Homo sapiens: one gene and its partners. The protein of the gene in region 4 interacts with the protein of the main gene of each other region in a pairwise test. Each region holds a gene or a part of one and is shown on either strand. Other genes may lie near its edges. The genes, in order: ZBTB24, UBASH3A, CNNM3, ZRANB1, RASAL3, ERF and CDKL3.

The links.
Region 1: the proteins of ZRANB1 (region 4) and ZBTB24 interact in binary tests that used the Homo sapiens proteins (3 or more experiments, as listed by UniProt).
Region 2: the proteins of ZRANB1 (region 4) and UBASH3A interact in binary tests that used the Homo sapiens proteins (3 or more experiments, as listed by UniProt).
Region 3: the proteins of ZRANB1 (region 4) and CNNM3 interact in binary tests that used the Homo sapiens proteins (3 or more experiments, as listed by UniProt).
Region 5: the proteins of ZRANB1 (region 4) and RASAL3 interact in binary tests that used the Homo sapiens proteins (3 or more experiments, as listed by UniProt).
Region 6: the proteins of ZRANB1 (region 4) and ERF interact in binary tests that used the Homo sapiens proteins (3 or more experiments, as listed by UniProt).
Region 7: the proteins of ZRANB1 (region 4) and CDKL3 interact in binary tests that used the Homo sapiens proteins (3 or more experiments, as listed by UniProt).

The regions. Positions count from the first base shown.
Region 1 is NC_000006.12:109,473,220-109,476,719, forward strand, and holds part of ZBTB24 (zinc finger and BTB domain-containing protein 24), read right to left. Parts: intron 3,040-3,500; coding exon 2,956-3,039; intron 2,264-2,955; coding exon 2,180-2,263; intron 1-2,179. UniProt on the Homo sapiens protein: May be involved in BMP2-induced transcription.
Region 2 is NC_000021.9:42,410,402-42,413,901, forward strand, and holds part of UBASH3A (ubiquitin-associated and SH3 domain-containing protein A), read left to right. Parts: intron 1-2,622; coding exon 2,623-2,821; intron 2,822-3,008; coding exon 3,009-3,122; intron 3,123-3,157; exon of another isoform or gene 3,158-3,500. UniProt on the Homo sapiens protein: Interferes with CBL-mediated down-regulation and degradation of receptor-type tyrosine kinases. Promotes accumulation of activated target receptors, such as T-cell receptors, EGFR and PDGFRB, on the cell surface.
Region 3 is NC_000002.12:96,819,268-96,822,767, reverse strand, and holds part of CNNM3 (metal transporter CNNM3 isoform 1 precursor), read right to left. Parts: intron 1-3,500. UniProt on the Homo sapiens protein: Probable metal transporter.
Region 4 is NC_000010.11:124,948,623-124,952,122, reverse strand, and holds part of ZRANB1 (ubiquitin thioesterase ZRANB1), read right to left. Parts: intron 1-3,500. UniProt on the Homo sapiens protein: Ubiquitin thioesterase, which specifically hydrolyzes 'Lys-29'-linked and 'Lys-33'-linked diubiquitin. Also cleaves 'Lys-63'-linked chains, but with 40-fold less efficiency compared to 'Lys-29'-linked ones.
Region 5 is NC_000019.10:15,454,545-15,458,044, reverse strand, and holds part of RASAL3 (RAS protein activator like-3), read left to right. Parts: intron 1-210; coding exon 211-753; intron 754-1,398; coding exon 1,399-1,543; intron 1,544-1,796; coding exon 1,797-1,941; coding exon of another isoform or gene 1,942-1,945; exon of another isoform or gene 1,946-2,136; coding exon of another isoform or gene 2,137-2,196; exon of another isoform or gene 2,197-2,407; intron 2,408-3,113; coding exon of another isoform or gene 3,114-3,151; coding exon 3,152-3,388; intron 3,389-3,482; coding exon 3,483-3,500. UniProt on the Homo sapiens protein: Functions as a Ras GTPase-activating protein. Plays an important role in the expansion and functions of natural killer T (NKT) cells in the liver by negatively regulating RAS activity and the down-stream ERK signaling pathway.
Region 6 is NC_000019.10:42,249,599-42,252,128, forward strand, and holds part of ERF (ETS domain-containing transcription factor ERF), read right to left. Parts: intron 1,843-2,530; exon of another isoform or gene 1,791-1,842; intron 1,567-1,790; exon of another isoform or gene 1,348-1,566; intron 968-1,347; coding exon 733-967; intron 345-732; coding exon 229-344; intron 141-228; coding exon 1-140. UniProt on the Homo sapiens protein: Potent transcriptional repressor that binds to the H1 element of the Ets2 promoter. May regulate other genes involved in cellular proliferation.
Region 7 is NC_000005.10:134,311,672-134,315,171, forward strand, and holds part of CDKL3 (cyclin-dependent kinase-like 3), read right to left. Parts: intron 2,247-3,500; exon of another isoform or gene 1,740-2,246; intron 710-1,739; coding exon 621-709; intron 1-620.

The DNA of each region.
Region 1 (3,500 bases), on a different chromosome or scaffold from region 4:
CTTTTTTTTAAAGCTTCCCAGGTGGTAAAAAGCATGCAGCTAAATTGAGAACATCCACCTACACTATGACTTCCTACTCCCAGCTCTCTGGCTGCCTTGATGCTCCTCCCAGCACGTCTCCAGCTTGTCAAAAACATTTATTCCTGCCTGAGGGCCCTGTGCCCAGGGCTCCCCCTGCCTAGAATGCTCTCTCCTGGACATCTTCAATGGCCGGCTGGCTCACTCCCCCACTGCATTCTCATCTCCATCCAAGATGCCACCTCATCTGTGAGACCTTCCCAAACCAGTCCATGCATAAAAGAGCAACTCTCTTTCCGGCATCCCGCCCCCTTACCTTGCATTTTATTCTTCAACGCACTCACAACACCAAATGTGTTATATACTTGTCTGTACTCTGTCTTCCCTATTGAATGTTGGCCCCTTAAGGCAGGGGCCTGTCCATCTCATTCACTGCTGTATCCTCAAAGCCTAAAACAATGTCTGGTTCCCAGTAAGTGCTCAGTACATGTGTTAAAATCCATATCCTATGAGATGTTTACTGAATTTAAGAAGAAAAACTTGTATTTAAAAAACAACATCCAGGCCAGGCACAGTGGCTCACGCCTGTAATCCCAGCGCTTTGGGAGGCTGGGAGGGTGGATCACTTGAGCCAGGAGTTTGAGCGAGACCAGCCTGGCTAACATGCCAAAACCCTGTCTCTACAAAAAAAAAACACAAAAATTAGCCAGGCGTGGTGGTGCGCACCTGTAGTTCCAGCTACTCGGGAGGATGAAGCAGGAGAATTGCTTGAACCCAGCAGGCAGAGGTTACAGTGAGCCAAGATAGCACCACTGCACAACAGCCTGGGCGACAGAGACAGTGACTCCAAAAAAAAAAAAAAAAAAAGTCCAAAGCACCATAAATCAATTTGCTATTTAGATAATTCCAGTAGACAACAGAATTATTAAATAACCTGTAATGGCAAGTTTTTCTTAGAAAACTGAATAGGCTTATTTTTAACATACATTCTTTGACAAAAGGTATAAAAGATCCAATTTTCCGATCTTACATAAAAAAACTGACCTGCCCTAATCAATGCTGCCTCCTCGTCATCTCTGAAACTGATTTTTCTGGAGGTGGTGCTGCTTAAGTTTAAGTGTTGGTTCTAGGGGAGAAAGTGGAAACATTCTCAGTGTCTATGCTACATTTGTGTCTGTTACATTTGGCTGTCTTTTCTAAAAAAATAATCTTGGGCCAGGCACAGTGGCTCACGCCTGTAATCCCAGCACTTTGGGAGGCCAAGGTGGGCAGATCACAAGGTCAAGAGATCGAGACCATCCTGGCCAACATGGTAAAACCCCATCTCTACTAAAAATACAAAAAAAATTAGCTGGGCATGGTAGCGCACACCTATAGTCCCAGCTACTAGGGAGGCTGAGGCAGGAGAATCACTTGAACCCGGGAGGCAGAGGTTGCAGTGAGCCAAGATCGTGCCACTGCACTGCAGCCTGGCAACAGAGCGAGACTCCGTCTCAAAAAAAAAAAAAAAAATTTATCTTGCTGGGTATGGTGGCTCATGCCTGTCATCTCAGCATTTTGGGAGGCTCAGACAGGAAGACTGCTTGAGCCCAGGAGTTCAAGACCAGCCTGGGCAACATAGTGGGACCCATCTCTACAAAAATTAAAAAATAAAAAATTAGGTAGTGTGGTGGTTTGCACCTGTGGTCCCAGCTACCCAGGAGGCTGAGGTGGGACGATCACCTCAGCCCAGGAGGTCAAGGCTGTGGTGAGCTGTGATCGTGCCACTACACTCTAGCCTGGATGACAGCACAAGCCCTTATCTTTAAAAAAAAAAAAAAAAAAAAGTCTTGATATCACCTTCAATGCTGAAGTAAATTAAGAGTGAAACATAGAACCAGACTCAGACTCACTATTCTGTGGTATTAAATGAATTGTGACATACGAATAGTCCTCAGTAAGTGATCTCCATTTTGCTCATCTACAAGAGATGTGATTTCCCCAAAGACAGTGCTGACAACATTCTGCCTTCCAACTTTTAACTTATCTTCTTACACAACTCCCATCCAATTTATAATAAACATTTCCAAACACAGGCTTAGCAGGGCACTCAGAGAACTTCATTCTTCACTCTCCTGAAAACATCCCGTGTACTGGGGGGACAGACGAGATGGAGTTTTACCTGTGTGTGTTCGCAGATGTTTCTTTAGCTGAGACACATCCATGAATTTGCGATGGCAGTCTTTGCATTCCGGTAATGAGTGGCCTTGTCGCAACAATAAAAAAAGTGTCAGTGCATACATGCTCTCCCTGCCTTTTCTTCAGTGATTTGTGTTAAAGCACTTCCCTGAAAAATAATCACTTTAAATATAGTACTTTAACCACAAAAATTTTTTCATTAATTTGGTAACTGTTAATATTTTCCTAAGCACCTCAACTCACTGCCTCCTCCAAGAGAGCTAGGATCCTTCCAATTCTAAATGTAGTCTCTCCTTTTTTCCTCAAAGTATTGGTGTGACTGAGGCCACAAATGACCTCAAATGACACTCGTAACCCACATTCATTTCTTATCAGTTGGCAGGAAAGAAAAAGGACAACAGGTAGAACCAGGGGAGAGAAAGCCTGGGCTGACAGCCATGGGATGATGATGTCTCTGCCCAGGCACCACTAACAACCATTCACTGAAGCTCCCCTGTGCAAGTGGCACTTTTGAAAGATGCCAATTCTGTAGGGTTTCTGTGTGTGGCACCAAAACTGTAGTATACAAATAAAACATAATTCACATGGTGGCGGACAATAACATAAAAACATGTAATTTAGACTCTTAAGGCACTTTTCCCTAAATACCCTATGTGAACGATATGTGCTAAGAGCAGAACAATATAAACCTAATGTTTCAGAAACAATTCTTATTTGCATTTCTTCCCCCCCAATCTAAATGTTCTCACTTTATCGTACCTGTATGAACTCGGTAATGGCTCTTTAGCTGTCTGTTCTGGCTGAAATATTTTCCGCATTGATCACAGGTAAAAGACTTCTGTCCTGCCAAAAAAACCAAAACACTAAAACATGTAAAAAATTATAAAGAACTGGAATGCTCACTAATAAGGTAAATACTACAGTGGGTCCAGGTCCCCATTTTCTACAAATGATACAAGCGACTTGTTTACATACCCAGAAGCCTTCAATCTACCACAGAAACATAAATGTGCAAAGGTATGTAAGGCAATCGGGAGTACTGGAGACTGGGGTAGAACTGGAGAATTTAAGTTTCCCCGAAAGGCGTTCAAAGTAAAACAATTCTAAACTTTGGTGGTTTAATAAAACATGCTTGCACACTAAACTCCCAGCAGCCAGTTTATAAGCTCTAGTTTAATGATCCGTGCAGAACTCTAAACTGCACTCAGACAGATGCAAAATCCTGTCTTTCAATGACACCACGTTGGAAATGATACTAGGCTGAGAAAACACCATTTAGGTGTTGGTAATGCCCACCCTGGGGA
Region 2 (3,500 bases), on a different chromosome or scaffold from region 4:
CAAGGAACCCTCCATTCCAACACCAGGCCCCTCGGTGCTGGATGGAAAGGAGGAATGCAAACCTCTGAAGGGAAAAGATTTCTGGAAGATGTCCCAGGAGAAGCAGTACCTTCCAAAGCCTCCAACCACCACCCCGGATTGCCCGAGACTTGCAGGGATCCCCAGAGCACAAGACTAAACCTGGAAAAGCCCCAGAAAAATCGAGAGAGTTTTCCCCCTACATCGACATCAATGGTACTTGTGACAAGCTGACTCCCTTCTGGTTCACCCTCTGGAGCCAACGGGGAAAGGCAAGGCAGCCCAAGCCATGTGACACAGCTCAGAAATCAGAGCAGGCCTTGGCCCCCCACTCCTTCCCCAGCCCACTGAGGTGCAAGCACACACACACACACACAGATAGACACAGAGACACACACATAGCTCACACACATAGACACACACAGATTGACACAGAGACTTACACATGCACACAGATACACACACATACATGCATACAGACATACATAGATATAGACACACAGACACACACAGATAGACACAGAGACGTACACACGGCACACACAGATACACACACATACATGCATACAGACATACATAGATATAGACACACAGACACACACAGACATGGAGACGTACACACGGCACACACAGATACACACACATACATGCATACAGACACACACAGAGACACAGATACACACAGACACACACAGATAGACACAGAGACGTACACAGCACACACAGATACACACACATACCTGCATACAGACATACATAGATATAGACACACAGACACACACATATATACATGCATACATGGATACAGACATACACAGACACACACAGATAGACACACATACACACTACATGTACATAGGTACACATGCAAACAGATACACACAGATATACACACACAGGAATACACAGATACATGCACATAGACACACACAGACACACACAGAGACACACATTAGATAGACACACATGCACAAACACAGACATGCACATACATGCACATACATAGACAAATGCACACATACAGACACACACATAAGCACCACATGCACACATATGCACACAGATACACACATGCATACACACAGACACACATATAGACATACGCAGACACACAGACACACATAGACATACGCATATGCAGACACACACACAGACACACACACATATAGACATATGCAGACACAAACACACTCACACACCTCCCTCTGTCGTTAGCTCCTCCCAGTCCCCCACCCCAGTTCTGGCCTGGCCGTGGTTAGTGGAGCTCCCCTCACAGGCAGAAGAGTGTAACGGAGACTCACTGTGTACCTTGATGCTGTAAAATGAAAACACTAATCTTCCGAAGTGTGATATTGATCACAGCTACACTTATAACATGACTATTCTTGAAAATTACATATCTGAGGCCAAGAAACACAATGTGAGACGGATTCAGGAATGGACATGTGTTCACTGGGTGGTTTTGTGTTGAGTGCCGTTGAGGGTTGCAGAGAAAACAGACAGGGAGGAATGTCAGGCCGGCCTGTCCATGGGGAGACGGAAGCTGCATTAAACACTGTGATCTGGCCTCATACTTGGGCTTGTAAGAAGCACTGTGGGAAATTCCGAGGGCAGCCCGGTGCTGGGAAGAGAAGGGATCAGGCCAACTCCCGCCAGGAGGGTGTGGTGTCTGGGTTTCCCCTGTGGTCCGATGTGGCCAATGGCACTGGGAAGGTTTTCAAGCCCAGGAAGCAGCCTCCCCAGGGCGGTAGGCAACACCGAGCCCAGATGTCAGGAGAGGCTGCGTCTGGCTGGAGGATGGGGGTGGGAGCCCCGTGGGCAAGGCTGTCGGGCCAGCACCTGTCGGGCTCCGTGGGCCTGAGGGATTCTCCAGGTGACAGAGAGCCTGCGGCCTCAGGGGTGGGAGCTGCATCAGAAAGAGGGTCCTGCAGCCACTCAGGGGGCATCAGGGAGGCCGGGCCAGGGGCTGTGCAGGCTCAGGTCCTCCAGGGAGCAGACCCCAAGGCAGAATTCCCAGTGCAGGAGACGCACAGGGGAGAGACTGCTGGTGAAGGCAAAAGAGGAGGAGAGGGTTGGAGGCAGGCAGAGCCTCAGTGCCTTAGAGGAGTCCCTGTGGAACCCGACTCAGTGCTCAGCCGTGGAAGAGAGGGTGGCCCCGCAGCTGGAAGTGCAGCTGAGTCCCGCTCACTACAGGCTCTGAGCAGTGCCTGGGCAGCCTTGGAGTCTGCTAGAAACCTCCAGAAGCCAAATCATGCAAACCTGAGCAAAGCAGTGTGCCATGGGACTGAGGAAAGGGCCTGGCAGGTGATGAGCACGTGCCATGGAGGGAGGGGATGCAGTTCAACGACCAGGGGATTTCCAACCTGGGCACCTAAAGGAGACTCCAACCTGCAAAGAAACTTACCTGAAATATTTGAAAAAACCGAGGTCCAGGTATAGAACAAATCCATAACCCCAGACACAAAGGGACGCAATAAATTATGTTACAGCGCTTTGAACAGAAAAGAATCTCACTTTAATTGCTGCCTGATTGTTATTAATTAAATTAATAGATGACTTCTGATGAGAGGTGTGGAAACACAGGCTCTGTCTCTGTCCCCTTAGTGTGAAGACCAGAAGGTGGAATGCCTGTACGAGGCGCTGAAGAGAGCTGGAGACAGGCTCCTGGGCTCCTTCCCCACGGCCGTGCCTCTGGCTCTCCACTCCTCCATCAGCTACCTCGGCTTCTTCGTCAGTGGCAGCCCCGCAGACGTCATCCGGGAATTCGCCATGACCTTCGCCACGGAAGCATCTCTCTTAGCAGGTGGGCAGCCCTGGCCAGTTGCAAACACAGGGCTGGATTCACAGTGAGTGAGCCCTCTGTGGCAGGGACTAGCCCCCGGCACATGGATGCAGTGGGTGGGTTCCAGGGGAGCAGAGCCCAGCAGCAATGGTGGGATGGCTGGGTGGGCTTTCTTCCGGGCTCAGTGGCTGCACCTGTCCTCACCCAGGCACTTCCGTTTCCCGCTTCTGGATTTTCAGCCAGGTGCCTGGACATGGCCCTAACCTGAGGCTGAGCAATTTAACTAGAGCCTCCTTCGTGAGCCACTACATCCTTCAAAAATGTAAGCCATTAGAAAGCTTCCGGACCAGCTTTGGTCTTCTCTTTAGGCGGGAATAGCCTTGTTCTCATTATGTGGTTTTTAAAATGCTTAGCTATATGCCAACAGCCTGGGAAAGTGCCCCAGAAGGGTGTGCCAAGCATCAAGCCTGAGTGGGTGACTGTGACGGGGTTGGAGGCTGGTGCACACAGGGAGTCAGGGCCTCCCCACCCCAGCCTTGAGTGGGAGACACACAAGTCCTACGTGACTTATTTCTGTATTTTCAGTATGAGCTTAGTGCTCTCTCCTTGGCCTCTCCAGGGAAAGATTATTTAGACTCATATTCAGAATCATCAAAATTCCCTTCTCTCCAAACACCAGCCCTGGCCTGGAGACCAAGGC
Region 3 (3,500 bases), on a different chromosome or scaffold from region 4:
CCTCAGTGAATGAATGAATACTGTGAGAAAGACAAAAGTAGTGTGCTGACGCTCCTCACTGCTGTTGGAGCTGGTCAGACTCTTTTCCGCATCATGGCAATCATCTGGCTCCCAGCAGACAGGAAACCAGAGCTGGGTTCCTTTAAAGCAGAGACTGCGGCCAGGCACAGTGGGAAACACCTGTAATCCCATCTCTTTGGGAAGCTGAGCTGGGAGGATCGCTTGAGGCCAGGAGTTTGAGACCAGCCTGGGCAACATAGGGAGACCCCAATCTCTACATAAAATTAAAAATTAGCTGGGGATGGTGGTGTTCACCTGTGGCCCCAGCTTACTCAGGAGGCTGAAGTGGAAGGATCACTTGAGCCCAGGAGGTAGAGGCTACAGTGAGCCACGATCACATCACTGCACTCCAACCCAGGTGACAGAGCAAGACTCTGTCTCAAAAATAATAATAATAATGTTCTTGGCCAGGCGCAGTGGCTCACACCTGTAATCCCAGCACTTTGGGAGGCCGAGACGGGCGGATCATAAGGTCAAGAGATCGAAACTATCCTGGCCAACATTGTGAAACTCCATCTCTCCTAAAAACATAAAAAAGTTAGCTGGGCGTGGTGGTGCACGCCTGTAGTCCCAGCTACTCAGGAGGCTGAGGCAGAAGAATCACTTGAACCCGGGAGGCAGAGGTTGCAGTGAGCCAAGATTGTGCCACTGCACTCCAGCCTGGCAAGAGAGCAACACTCCATCTCAAAAAAAAAAAAAAAATAATAATAATAATAATAATGTTCTTTTGTACATTAAGGTCCCTTACTTAACAATGGTTCAAATTACAATTTTTCAAATTTGATGGTTCAAAAGCAATATGCATTCAGTAGAAACCATACTTCAAACACATATAACCATTCTGTTTTCACTTTCAGTACAGCAGTCAATAAATTACATGAGATATTCAACACTTTATTTTAAAATAGTTTTGTGTTAGATGACTTTGCCCAACTGCAGGCTAAAGTAAGTGTTCTGAGCATGTTTAAGGTGGGCCAGGCTGAACTATTTGGTTTGGTAGGTTAGATGTATCAAACACATTTTTGACTTAAGGTATTTTCAACTTACAATGGGTTTATCAGGACATAACTCCATTTGTAAGTCAAGGAGCAGCTGTCCAAGTTATTTATTATGGCTCCAAAGCACTCACTCTTCCTGGTGACGTCTGCACAAAATAATCAGCACGTCATCTCAAGTTGGCACTGATTGAGGGGCGCCTTGCTGGGGAGGTTACCTTGCCCCCAGACTACAAAGTTCCCTAGCAGACACAGCAAAAGAAACAAGACCCGGAATGAAAGCTGCCAAGATGGCAGGGACTCCAGCTCCACGAAATTCAGAGGCTCATTAGCTTGGCAGAGAGATGGAAAGGGAATCGATTTTTAAAACCTCACACGCCACAAAGACTGCAATATGCCCTTTGTTCCTAAGTGGAGGAATGCTTAAGAAGGTTAGGAAGGACAAAAAGGACTTTAACACGGAAAAAATAAAGATATTTGCCAAAGGACTGCACTGAACTAGAGAAGCAGAGAAAAAAGCTCCGGGATGTCACCAGAAAGACATGGCCAGTCTGCCCACGAATGGCCCTCACTCACCACAGGAGCGGGGAAGTCAAGGGGGATTAAAGAGCTCCCCATTTAACCTCCAGGTTCCAAAAACCTCCCCCACTGTCTTCCAAGGGGATCCTTTTCAGCATGTTGTCAGGCAGCTTTTAGAAAGGTCTGTTTCAAGCAGAGGCACTCAACCCCAAATCCTCCTGCATCGGGCTGCTTGTGACCTGCCTGGAGGCCACCCAGCCCAGAACAGGAGCAGCCCGGACCCTGGCCTCTCTAATTTCCTTCCTAGCTACATTTCAACCTGCATTTCAATCTGAACCTACTGGACTTGCCCATCTTAAAACCAAACAGCAGAAGGCCTCCTCCCCTGTCCCACATCCTCTGCCAGTCACTTCTCTCTGCAGCCACACTCTGTGGAGGGCTGTCTACATTGGTTCTCGTACCTTTCCACACCTCATTCATTCCCCAAATGGCTCCCTTGCCGTGGCACCAAATCTGCTCTTGCAAAGGTCAACGGCATCCTGTTTGCTGGCCTCCTCTCCTGTCACTCACCTTCCCTGGGAAAGTGGTCTCTTCCCTTAGCTTCCAGGACATTCCGCATCTCGGGAACTCCTCCTTCCTTGGTCTTGCCTCCTCCTGGCCAGCTTCTCCTGGGCTTCCCTTGCCCCTGACACACCTGTGCTCCTAGGAGGCTGAGGCTCTCTGCCTCCCTCCCATGACTTGAGAGACACTCCTATTCTGCCTCCCACTTGCATTTCACATCAACGGCCTGCTAGGAGTTTGCCTCTTGGGACACTGCACAGACACAAATTCAATGGCCAAAACCTGCTCCCCACGCCCGGCCCTTAGTGAAGGCGCACCGCCACCACACAGCCAGAAATCTGGGCCTCATCCTCAGCTGCTCCTCCTTGTTGCATAGCCCTGCTGCCAGATACCAATCTTCCCAATTCCACCTCTGCTGCCCTCTTGGGGCTCCTCTCCAGGCCTGCCATGAACCTTGTTCAGGTTATCATCCCCTCTCACCTGGATCCCTCACACCGCTGGTCTCCCTGCGCTGGTGTCCACAATTGTTACTGATCTGTAAAAATAACTGATGCTGCTGCTTGATGCTCATGGCCCTGGTGATCAAGTACAAGTTCCTTACACAGCACACAAGCCCCCCCGCCAGGGGACATCCTGCCTCTGCGCTCCTTCCCAACGAACATGAACATTTTTTATTCTTCCCCAAGTGGAATCCCCAACCACCCTGGACCAAGCTCATCCATCGCATCTGAAAGACAAGACCATGGCAGCGAAGATCCTGACACTGGCGGTTTGGAAAATGAAAGACCACTTTCACCAGCCTCATCCTGAGCATCATGACCAACTACAGAAGTTGCCTTTAGTTCTGAACAGGACAACCCTTCCATCTCCGCTGCTCCAAATCTCTGCTTGGTGACTGCTCAACTGTTGAAAGCAGCAGCCAGCTGAAGCCAGACACCAGAGTGAGCTTTTTCTTAAAGAATCTAGAAACGTGAGTGCTTTGAACACCAAAAGGACAGCTACAGTCTTCCACTTTTTCCCTAAAAAAAAGGAAGTCTGGTGACCTGCCTAGAAGAACAGAAATCTGCAATTCCAGATTCACCCCTTGCTCCTGGATTGGCAAACAGCTCACCTACCAGCAGAGCCTGTCCCGGAGTAAGAACCACCTGCTAACGCCAAGCACACAGCATATGCACGCCAGGCACTGGCCAAAGTGCTTGATGAGTCTCCCCCCGCAGGTCTGTTTACCCACTCTTATCACTAACAGCAGAGGACTTTGCACCACAAGAGGCTGAGCAGCCTTCAGGGCCTGGGGGCAGGCAAGGGCAGGATGGAACCTACTCCGCTGATTCCAGGGTTGCAATGTTGGCCACCACACCAGGAGAA
Region 4 (3,500 bases):
CTATTTATATTGGTCATGCAAATCACCCAAAAAGCCCAAAGAGGGGGTAGAGGGAGATGAACCTATAAGGAAGTCAATGGGCAAGTTAAAAATGTAAATTTGGACATTATAACTTATTTCATCAATACTGTTTTTATTTTTTTGTTTTTATTTATTTATTTATTTTGAGACAGAGTTTCACTTTGTTGCCCGGGCTGGAGTGCGGTGGCATGATCTCAGCTCACTGCAACCTCCGCCTCCCAGGTCCAAGAGATTCTTCTGCCTCAGCCTCCCAAGTAGCTGGGATTACAGATGCCCGCCACCACACCCAGCTAATTTTTGTATTTTCAGTAGAGACGAGGTTTCACCATGTTGGCCAGGCTGGTCTTGAACTCCTGACCTCAAGTGATCCGACCGCCCCGCTCTCCCAAAGTGCTGGGATTACAGGCATGAGCCACCGCGACCAGCAGATGGTGTGTTTTTAAAAACACCAAATGTTTTGTGCCTTCAGGTAAGTCATCAATAAAATATCCTTGTGAAAGAAATAATTTTTAAAGCTAAGGAGTAATGAACTAGAGAATAGAAGCCTCTTCTATTTTTTTCTTCACAATCGTTTGTATGCCCTGAGTTTTCTCTCAAGTTAAAAAGTCACCCCAAAGATGTCTTAAATGGGCAAAATCACCAGTGTCCAATGCAAGGATTTCCTTTTCCGTTTTGACATGGTAATTTTCTTGGTAATATAAATCACTTTAAAATCATTCCAGTTCAAAGGAATATAATCTCTCAAAAACTAAATGACTTTTCCTTCACAGAAGTTAATTTAATTTTGTTTGGATTATTGTACAACCTCCCTTTCATTACACCAGGCACATATTTCAACAGTAGAAACTTTTTTTAAAAAAATCATTATAGAAGATTACATTTTGCAACGGTTTTGTTTCTCCAGAGAAAAAAGTAATACTAATTTAATAATTTACTTGAGAAAAACCTCTGACAAATTGTAAATGTCCATCTATATACGTAATTCTTAATATCAATACCAAAACAAATTGAAAAGAATATTTTAAAATGTAATACGCCTACACTTTGCTATTTTTTTTTTTAAACAAGGTGTGTAAGTAAAACCAAATGGACAAATACCTTCTGACATATTTAATACCATGCAAGTTTTAAGACATGGTCTTGCTCTGTCACCCAGGCTGCAATGCAGTGACACAATCATGGCCCGCTGCAGCCTGGGCGCAAGTGTTCCTCCCATCCCAGCCTCCTGCATAGGTGGGGACCACATGGGAACACCACCATGTCCTGCTAATTTTTTTTATTTTTTATAGAGACGAGGTCTCGCCAAGTTGCCCAGGTTGGTTTTAGAGTCCTAGGCTGAAACGATCCTCCCCTCTTCTCAACCTCCCACAGTGCTGGGATTACAGGACTGAGCCACCATATCCAGACCCATCCAGAAACTGTGGAAATATTTAGATATTTCTAGAGTTACACTTGGCACTCTAGAGTGGACAGACACCATATGACACGTTATACGGATTTCTGGCAAGAGGCCCAAATACAATTAGAATCCAAATGGATTTGCCTCAAACATTGATTCTCAACACAATTAAGTTATGAGAAAAGGGAAAATAATAGATTAAATATAACAATATTTTTGCAGACAACTAATATAAGAAAACGTTACCAATACATGTTCTATGTTTTAAAAATCATGTAAGACCAGGCACAGTGGCTCACACCTGTAATCCCAGCACTTTGGGAGACCGAGGCGGGCGGGCTGCTTGAACCCAGGAGTTTGAGACCAGCCTGGGCAACAAGGGGAAACCTCATCTCTACAAAAAATGCAAAATTAGCCAGGCGTGGTGGTGCACGTCTGTAGTCCCATCTACCTGGGTGGCTGAGGTAGGAGAATTGCTTGAGCCCAGGAGGCAGAGATTGAAGTGAGCCAAGATCACACACCACTGCACTCTAGCCTGGGAGACAGTGAGACCACCTTGCCTCAAAAAAGTTAATTAGTTAATTAATTAAAAAATAAAACAATAAAAATCATCTAAGTCTTTACAGACATGTCAAAATTCTGAAAGTGGGACAAATTTTGCTCAGAAACCATCAGAATTATAATCCTCATGATGCCACTTCATCCTGCTACTTGATAAAGAAGAGATTCTGGTTCAGTCCGTAAGTCATTGATTTTCAACAGGGAACACCACTGCATGTGCACTTCACGTCACCCCAAAACTTCAGAGCACCGGGAGGCATTACTGATTCACATATTCCCTATAGTGAAAGCTGTTCATACCACTGCTATTGGGCAACTGAGTATTTCAGCATAAAAATTCCAGTTTCAGGCCAGGTGGTGGCTCACAACTGCAGTCCCAGTACTTGAGTCCAGGAGTCTGAAACCAGCCTGGGCAACACAGAGAGACCCCATCTCTACAAATCATTTTTAAAATTGGCGGGGCATGGTGGTATACACCTGTACGCCCAGCTACTAGGGAAGCTGAGGTGGGAGGACTGCTTAAGCCCAGGAGGTCAAGGCTGCAGTGAGCTGTGATCGCACCACTGCACTCCAGCATGGGCAACAGAGCAAGATCCTGTCTCAAAAAAAAAAAAAAAATGTGTGTGTGTGTGTGTGTGTGTGTGTATACGTGAATATATATACATATATGTGTGTGTAAACATATATATATACATATGTGTGTAAACATATATATATACATATATATGTGTATACATAGTTTCAATGTGAACTTGTTACTTAAGTTTGATTTTTTTCCCCCTATACCTTCAACAGCCCCAACCAAATCTCAGCTCCTAAACTTAAGAAAGATGCAGCTATTGTTTAGGAAGTAAGATAAACGCCAACTAGGAAGCAGCAGGTCCAATGACAACTGAATAAAATATTTCAAGTAAAAATCTCATTTGATAGTTATAGCAAACACATAGAATGATTTTTTTGAAAAAACAAATATTGCCATGAGTGAAAGTAGGGAGGTAGAGAAATTAAACATAAACCTGACTTTAGACTTTTCATGTCCATAGACTGCCTGGTGATAAACTGAAGCCTCTATACCCTTTCCTGTAAGACCCTTTCATACCCACTACTTACCTCAGTCTTCCTGACAACCAGTGAGAAGTAAAACTGGCTCTCCTGGGTTGAGCCCCAACTATTGAAAAACATAGAGAGCTAGGAAGCAGGCAAAGAATCTAGAAATTCATAGGAGGAGTAGGATAAAGGTTTGCCCAGACCCTAGTTCCCAAAAATATTCATTCGTTCATTGATATAAAAATACCTGAGTGCCTAGTATGTATGTAGCAGGCACTGTTGTACATACTAAGATACAGCTTTGAACAAAACATAAAATTACTGGCCCTCAGGAAGCTTAAATTCTAGAGTAGAGAGAGACAAATAATAAACAAGATGATGAAGCATATTAGAAGTGTTATGAAGAAAATTAATGCTGTGGGGAGGGATAATGGACAGGGATGAAATTTTAGATACGGCAGTCATGGAGGAC
Region 5 (3,500 bases), on a different chromosome or scaffold from region 4:
CCCCCAACTCTCCCGGAGAGCCCAGAAAAGCTAGAAGACTTCCGCGTAACCGCCTCCGGACTCCCGTGGCTCCACTTCTTTCCCCAAAGGCCCAGCAATCTCCCTAGGGACCCGACGCAACAGGTTTGAGGCTCCACGCTTCACTTGCGGTGCCTTCTTTGGGGTGCCAACAAACCAAAACGCTTCCCCCCATCCCACTCCCATCTGCAGGACAACGTGGAGCGGGAAGAGACATGGCTGAGCGTGTGGGTGCACGAAGCGAAGGGGCTTCCCCGAGCAGCGGCGGGGGCACCCGGCGTGCGCGCCGAGCTGTGGCTGGATGGCGCGCTGCTGGCACGCACGGCGCCTCGGGCCGGCCCAGGCCAGCTCTTCTGGGCCGAGCGCTTCCACTTCGAGGCGCTGCCACCGGCACGTCGCCTGTCGCTGCGGCTGCGCGGCTTGGGCCCGGGAAGCGCGGTGCTGGGCCGCGTGGCCCTGGCGCTGGAGGAGCTGGACGCCCCACGCGCGCCTGCCGCCGGTCTGGAGCGCTGGTTCCCGCTGCTCGGGGCGCCGGCGGGCGCAGCGCTGCGGGCGCGGATTCGGGCGCGTCGCCTGCGCGTGCTGCCGTCCGAGCGCTACAAGGAGCTGGCGGAGTTCCTCACCTTCCACTATGCGCGCCTCTGCGGGGCCCTGGAGCCCGCGCTGCCTGCGCAGGCCAAGGAGGAGCTGGCGGCAGCCATGGTGCGCGTGCTGCGGGCCACCGGCCGGGCGCAGGTGCGGCACCGCGACAGCGCGGACCGGGGCTACCAGGGGTAGACCGATAACGCGCTTCGGGCAGGAGTTGGGGCGCAGGACCTGAGTTGCACCTGTAATGGGGGAGACACCTTGAAGGGGTGTGAGGGGCGTGGTCCAAGTGTCACCTGTAAGCGGCGGGGCACCTAGAAGGGCGGGGCACCTAGAAGGGCGGGGCCTGAACATCACCCGTAAGGGGCGGGGCACCTTGAAGGGCGGGACCTGAGCGTCAGCTGTGAGGGGCTGGGGCTGAGCTGCACCTGTAAGGGGCGGGGCACCTTGAAGGACTGGGCCTGAGCTTCAGCTGTGAGGGGCGGGGCCTAATTATCACCCATAAGGGGCGGGACACCTTGAAGAGCGGAGCCTAAGCTTCAGCTGCGACAGGGGCCTGAGCATCACGCGTGAGGGGCGGGGCCCAGGTTGCACCTCAGCGCTGAAAGGCTTAAATTTCTGCTGTGAGGGTTAGAGGTTCCGGCCTCGGTTATGAGCCCCAGCAGTAAGGACTGGGCCTAAGCATCAGCTACAAGGGGCGGGGCCTGTGCCTCTGGTGTGAGGGACCAGCCAAGGATCCGAATTCCCTTGGACTCTGTCTGCATCTGGTGCAACCTGACCTCCTGCCCTTCCTAGGCGCTGGTGACTGACCTGGGCACTGCGGAGCTGGCGCGCTGTGGAGGCCGTGAGGCGCTGCTGTTCCGGGAAAACACATTGGCCACCAAGGCTATCGATGAGTACATGAAGCTCGTGGCACAGGATTACCTCCAGGAGACCCTGGGTGAGCTGGGGGAGAGTCCATGTCAGCGGCCTGCTGGTGAGCTAGGGGACCTGGGTGAAGTTCTAAGAGTCCTTGAGCAACCTGGATTCTGGTAGTGAGTGGTGTTTTGGGGGTGCTAGGATCCTGGGGACAATTGGGAGCTCCCCAAGATGTTGGGTGCCTCCGGAATAACCTGAAGACAAGGTTGGAGGATGGGTGTGGCAGGTTTTGGTGGTCATGGCCCCAGCCCCTATCTGGCTGTGCTGGGCTGCAGGACAGGTTGTGCGGCGTCTCTGTGCTTCTACTGAGGACTGTGAAGTGGACCCCAGCAAATGTCCAGCCTCGGAGCTGCCAGAGCACCAGGCCAGACTTCGGAACAGCTGCGAGGAGGTCTTCGAAACCATTATCCATTCCTACGAGTGAGAATCAGGGCCCCAGCAGCTTAGCCCACCCCTGCTTACCATGCTAGCCCCGACCTCCAGTTTAGGGTGGCCAGATAAAATACAGGAGACACTCAGTTAAATTTGATGCAATAATTGGGACCATGCTTATACTAAAAAATTACTCATTTGAACCAGGCATGGTGACTCACGCCCGTAATCCCAATGCTTTAGGAGGCCGAGACAAGAGGATTGCTTGAGCCCAGGAGTTCAAGGCCAGTCTGGGCAACATAGCAAGACTCCATCTCTCCAAAAAGCTTTTTAAAAATGAGCTAGGCATGGTGGCACACACCTGTATTCCCAGCCGAGGCTGGAGGATCGCTTGAGCGCAGGATTCAAGGCTGCAGTGAGCTATGATCATGCCACAGCACCCCAGCCTGGTTGACAGAGACCCTGTCCCAAATAAAAGTAAAAATATAAATAAAAATCACTCCGTTATCTGAAATTCATGTTTAACTGGATGTCCTGAAGTTTCGTTTGCTGCATCTGGCAACCCTATCACCATGCAACCCTATCACCACTGACCCCAAGTAACCTGAGACCCAATTCCTTGTCCTGTAACCACAGTTGATTCCATATCCCCAATTTCATGCCACTGGCTCCAGTTAACATAGGACCTCAATCCTATGACCAGATGATGCCCCAAGTCCATGATCCCTGGCTTTAAGTGACCCTCCACCTCAAATCCCATGCAACTGATCACAGGAGACCTGGGATTCCAATCCCTTGACCTCTGACCCTAGGTTAACCTGCATACCTAATCCCTGACTTCAATCAAGTGACTTCTGACCCTAGGTGACCTCCAGAGCCCCAATCCTACTTTATATCTTGTACTCTGGCCCACCAGTCTCATGTCTAATTATAAGTACATCCAAGCTCATAACCTCTGTCTTCATGTGACCCTGTATCCCCAACTATAAGAGTATTATCCCCAGCGATTGCCATAGCTACACCATAAGCCATGGCCCCATGCTGATTCATAACCCCAAGCATTGTTATCTCAGATATTCCCAATCCTAGAGCCCAGACCCCAGGTTCAGTGAGAAGGAAGCCTGCATGGGCTTCATGAATAGCTCTCTGGAGGATCATGGACCAATCATGCAGTGCTTCTGGGACTCCCAACCTTATGACTTTAACCTTTATGCCCATAGCCTCCCCGTCTGACCATTCATTGCCTCTTCTGCACCAGCTGGTTCCCTGCGGAGCTGGGCATCGTGTTCTCAAGCTGGCGAGAAGCATGTAAAGAACGTGGCTCTGAGGTGCTGGGCCCCCGACTGGTGTGCGCCTCCCTCTTCCTGCGGCTCCTGTGCCCTGCCATCCTGGCACCCAGCCTCTTTGGTTTGGCACCAGACCATCCAGCACCCGGCCCAGCCCGCACCCTCACACTGATTGCCAAGGTCATCCAGAACCTCGCCAACCGTGCCCCGTAGGTGCTGGGAAGCTAGGGGTGGGGGGACCATGCTGGGAGTGTGGGGGTGGCAGGTGCCTGACCTGACCCACCCAGCCTGGCCCTGATCCAGGTTCGGTGAGAAGGAGGC
Region 6 (2,530 bases), on a different chromosome or scaffold from region 4:
GGAAGATGAAGATGAAGAGCAGGCTGGTGGTGAGCGGGGGTCCTCGGTGGGGGACAGCACCTCGGAGGGCGTTGAGGGAGGGAAGCGGAAGTGGCTACCACCCGACGGCACTGGCGGGGCACTCTGGGGCACTGCACCCCCTGGCAGAAGGGAGACAGTGTCAAGGCCCCTGGCCTAGCCTGAAGGGGCATGTAGACCCTCTCCACACCAACCATCCCTGGTACTCACCAGCCAACCCCACATCAATGAATGGGTAATTGACCAGCACCAGTTTGTTGAAATTGAACTTGTAGGTGAACCGTTTCCCCTTGGTCTTGTGCAGAATGCGCTTGTTATAGTAATAGCTGTGGGTACAGAAATGCCATTGGGAAGGTCAGGTACGTGGGACCCAGGTCTAGACTCCACACCTTAACACGCACTTAGGTGTGGTTCCCAAAGGCCAACTGAGGAACGTAGGCCACAAAAGACAAATCAAGTGCCCAGAGGGTGGGTACCAGCTCTCTCCTCACATCTAAGGCAGGACTAGAGGATCCACTGGTGACTGTAATCTCTCCTCAGGATACGTCTGTGTTACCAAGGGGCTCAGGGAAGGGCTGGGAGTGGCCCAAGGTCACACAGCTAGGATTTGGCAAAGCCAGGGGTCAGACCCAATGCTTGTTCCCACAGGCAAGGGGCTGTGCAACCCCGGGGGGGCACTCCACATGTGCTCAGGGGTCCCCAGCCCGTCCTCACCGCAGGGCCCGGCTCAGCTTGTCGTAATTCATCTGGGGCTTGCACTTGCGAACGCCCCACAGCCGGGCCACCTCATCAGGGTCTTTGATGACGAATTCCCCGTAGTCCCCCTGCCAGGCAATGACGCCCTGGTACTCCTCCTTCCGCAGCAGCTCCAGGATAAAGTGCCACAGCTGGATCTGCCTTGAGCCAGGGGACGACTCTGGCTTGTAGGCCCAATCCGGGAAGGCAAACCCTGGGGACGGGAGGCAGGGAGTGGCCTGGGGTCAGGCTGCCAAGTCCAGGGCTCTGGGTCCCATCCCAGGGTCCACCTCTGCCCTGCCTTCAACATGGGGAAATCTGTCTCACCTCAGCCAAGTCAAGATCTGATTTAAGAGAAGACAGTGCGTGTCTGTCTGTCTGCATGTGAGGGGCTAGACAGGAGCTGGGGGGGAGGGGAAGCTGGAGCCCGCTCCAGCGACACCGGGAGAAACAGGAAACCGTCGGCGGTGGGTCCCGGGGCCAGTGCCAGGGGGCCAGGCACCAAGCCAGGCTGGCGGGCAGGGCTGCCAGTGGGGGAGGGGCAGGAAGGGGCACACGTGGCCAGCCGGGTTGGGGTACAGCCCCCCAGCTTACCCCCACTCCCATTCAGAGCCAGTTGCACCACCCCAGCTCCTCGGATGTCCTCCTTAGAAACATGCACTGTCTCCTCCGAAGACCCAACAGAGCCCCTACTCCCAACCCCAAGACCTGAGAGGAAGATTTTTTTTTTTTTTCTTAAAAGGACCAGGAGGGGTGGGGTGACTCGGTTGCCGATGAGGTCAGCGCTTGCACACACAGAGGCTTCTGTCTTCCCTGGAGAGTGAAACCCAGACTGTCTGAGAGGCCCCCCAAGCCCTGGACCCTCTGAGCTACACTGCCCTCCCCAGACCCAGGCATCCAGGCCCCACCTGGCTGGAGGGCCCAGCCCAGGCCTGGAGCTTGAGCAGGCACCCTGGAGCTGTCACCCTCTTCCCACTTCTGCCTTCTCATCTTCAGCTCCTTCCCTGCCCACCTGCCTGCCCACCCCCAGCATTAACCTTGGGTAGAGGTTGGCGGTGGGCTGGCTGGTCTCTGGAGGGGGTGGGCAGCCTGGGGTGGGGGGTGGGGGGTGGGGGGACTGCGGTTGTTGTCATTTCCCAACAACAGGGGCCATCAATAATTCAGCACCAGGCAGCCGGTAATGGAGGGGTGGGAGGAGGGAAAGGGGAGGAAGGGAAGGAGTGGGGAGGCAGAGCAGGGTCCCTGGTGCCACTAGAGAGAGAAGGCCAAGGTGGCCAGCTAAAGATGGGCGGCTCCCAAATCCAGTCAGGCTGCAGGGGTCAATCCGCCTCCCTTGGCCCCAGCTCAAACAGGTACCAACAAGGCCTCCAGGCAACACATCCACCCTCAAAGACTCCACCCAAGTCTGGAATCCAACAAGGGATCCTTCCCCTTGGGAATCCAGGGAATCAGTAGTTCCTGCTCCCACAGGGACCACCCCCTCCAAATCCAGAGCTCACTGTAGGCCCCCAACTCCTGCCCAGACTGGGCTGCAGTACCACATAGCCCCCGGAGTCCCTGCCCCATTCAGATATATCCCAGCCTTCCACCAGCCCCTCAGGGTGCCAGGGATATGACCTCCAGCTGTTCACAGACCAGCACCAACAGCCCCTGTTCCATTTAAAAGTGACAGCCTTTGACAACCCCTTCCAGAGACCCCAGAGCACCATCGCTCTCTTGGGAATCTAGGTGTTCAACCCATTATCCTCACCCTTCTAGAGAATCCAGATCACAAGGT
Region 7 (3,500 bases), on a different chromosome or scaffold from region 4:
TATTTAATGTTATCTCTGGTCTATGATGACACTGAAACTGTAGTATGTAAAGAGCAGAGCACACTGCCTAGGACATGGTAACTGTGTAACGAATGTTAGTTGCAATTACTTTTTATTATTAGACTTTCTTTTTCTTTTTTTGAGATAGGGTCTCAACCTGTCACCCAGGCTGGAGTGCAGTGGTGCAATCTCAGCTCACTGCAACCTCCACCTCTGGGGTTTAAGCAATCCTCCCACCTGAGCCTCCCGAGTAGCTGGGACTACAAGCGTGTGCCACCACACCTTGCTAATTTTTGTATTTTTTGTAGAGACAGGGGTCTCTCTATGTTGCCCAGGCCGGTCGTGAACTCCAGGGCTCAAGCAATCTGCCTGCCTCAGCTTCGCAAAGTGCTGGGATTACAGGTGTGAGCCACTATGCCCATCCTATTATTAGGCTTTTCATTCGTGACACTTGTTAAGTCTGCTGTCTTCCTAGTCAATACCTGATACAATAACTCAATAAATTTTTGTTAAACTGAATATTTGTTATATAAAAGTAACCTATACAGCAATTTTCCTGCTAGTAAAATTTCCCAATACAAAATGCTTTTAAAAAACCCACATTCACTCAAAATGCTTACTTTTCAATAAATCCATCTCTAGTAAAATACTCATGATGCAAAAGATCACTAGATGATATCCTGTCAGCAGGATCAATTTGTAAACAAGCCTAGGAAAGGAAAAAGATTTTAATAAGTGAGCTCTCAACAGGGCTCCATATGGTAAAAATTAAATTTATTTGACAAATTAAGAAGTAAGTAATTATCCAGATCAAAAAGCCTTCTTGAAAAGATGGAATTAGACCTCAGGAACTTCTGGTAGTAAGTTCTGGCTGTTTATTTCCCTAAGGAATTTGCACTTGCAAAACATTATTATAGGTTAAATGTCCCATGATTCTAGCCAAAACAGAGGTCAGTCTGTTTCTGCTGAAATTAGCAAAAATTAATTAGCTCATTTTGATCCTCTTTTCTGCCCTGACAGGTGGAAAGTTCATGGATAATCATTTGCATTTTACAGATCTAGAAGCATGATTAGTAGTTTGCCAAACACGAGTTTTAACCCATGTTGTCTGACGCCTAATCCAGCACTCTTTCTATATCATAATACCATTTTGCAAATATTCAAGTCCCTAAATCTTTCAATAACCCATTATTAAATCAGCTCTTTTCTGTTTCCCTTTCTTGGTATAGAAACAAACAAACAAAATATGGAAGGTAGTTTTGAATGTTAAGTTGTACATAATAAATCTATATGTAGTTAAATAACAATAATTATAAATGGAACACATTTCTTTAATCAAAATACTGAAAACAGGTTTTCAATAAAAAGCATCTGCTTTATAATTTTCATTCCTCCTGTGAAAGGAGGTAAAACATTAATAGTTAACTTTTTTGTAGAGATGGGAGTCTTGTTATGTTGTAAGGCTGATGAACTCTTGAGTTCAAGCGATTCTCCCGCCTCAGTCTCCCAAAGTGCTGGAATTACAGAAGACAGCCACTGTGCTTGGCCTTTTAAAATTTTTTAGAGACAGGTTCTTACTCTGTCGCCCAGGCTGGAGTGCAGTGGTGCAATTATAGCTCACTGGAGCCTTGAACTCCTTGGCTCAAGATATCCTCCTTCCTTAGCCTCTTGAGTAGCTCAGACTACAGACACATGCCACCAAGCCTGACTAGTAACTTTTATTGATGCTTACTACATACCAGACAACGCTCCAGCTTTTTCTTCCTTCCATCGCAACAACAATCCTACAAAGTAAGTATTATTATTATCCTCATTATACAGATGAGGAGACTGAGGCCCAGAGAGATCAAGTAATTTGTTTAAGATCTCATAAGTAGAGGAGCCACAATTAAAATCCAGCAAATCCAAGATAATTGTATATAATATTATGTTTCTGTTTATTTCAAAATGCATATTTAAACTGATTCACAGAAAAAAATCTAGAGATCTGCTGTACTATAATGTGCATATAGTTAAAAATGCCATACTGTACACTTAATAATTTTGTAAGAAGGTAGATTCCATGTTATGTGGGGTTTTTTTTTTACCAAAATAAAAAACATTGATTCACAAGGAGAAATTATTTAAGTCTGTTACCTACTTAATGATGTGGCAATACCTAGGTCTTTAAGACTGCAACTAGTTGGCCAGGTGTGGTGGCTCATGCGTGTAATCCCAGCACTTTGGGGGGCAACAGAGGGTGGATCACCTGAGGTTGGGAGTTAGAGACCAGCCTGACCAACATGGAGAAACTCCGTCCCCACTAAAAAAAAAATAATACAAAATTAGCCGGGTGTGGTGGCACATGCCTGTAATCCCAGCCACTCGGAGGCTAAGGCGGAAGAATTGCTTGAACCCGGGAGACAGGAGGTTGCGGTGAGCCAAGATCACGCCATTGCACTCCAGCCTGGGCAAGAAGAGCAAAGCTCCGTCTCAAAAACAAAACAAAACGAAACAAACAAATTAAAAAAACCCTGCAACTAGTTAAAAATATGTGCTCATTTTAGAATATAATGGTAATCTATCACTAAAACTTATAAGAAAAATGCTAAAAGGTCTGACCAAATCATAGGGGCAGACAATTAGAGGCAGTCCTTCTGTGAATATAATTCAGTAAATTTAAATATATGCCCTACTTTGGAAAATGTAAAACATGACACTTTGGGAAACAGATTGGCAGTTTCTTTAAAAATTAAACATATGCCTACCCATGACCCAGCCATTCTGTTCTTAGATATTTCTGCAGGAGGAATGAAAATACAATGTGTGTTCCATACAAAGACAAACATGAATGTTCTCATGGCAACTTTATTTGTAATAGCGAAAAGTGGGAAATAACCCACATGTCCATCAACAGGGAAAGGATTTTTTAAAATGTGGTATAGTCATATAATGAACTACTACTCTGCAAAAAAGGAACAAATTGCTGATACATACAAAAACATGAATGAATCTCTAAACCATTATGCTGAGTGGAAGAAGCCAGACATGAAAGAGTGCCTACTGTATGCTTCTATTTATATAAGATTCTAGAAAATTCAAACTAATCTATGGGAATAGAAAGCAAATCAGTGGTTATCTGGGGACAGAAATGGAAGAAAAGATGAATTGTAAAAGGACACAATGAAATTTTGGAGAGTGATGGAAATGTTAGGTATCGTGTGTGTGTTTGTGTGTGTGTGTGTTAGGTATCCTGATTGTGGTGGTGGTTTCATGTGTGTATACATGCATCAAAACTCTTCAAATTGTACATTTTAAGTATGTATAGTTTACTGCCCACAAATTATACCTCAATAACATTGTTTAGAAAATTTATATCTAGGAAAAATATGTGCCCTACATCAGATATCAAAGTGTATTTTAAAGTTACAATAATAAATCAAAGTTGTACTACTTCTAGAATAAAGAGAAAAATCAATGGAACAGAAACAAACCCACACATGTATAAGCATTTTGTCTAT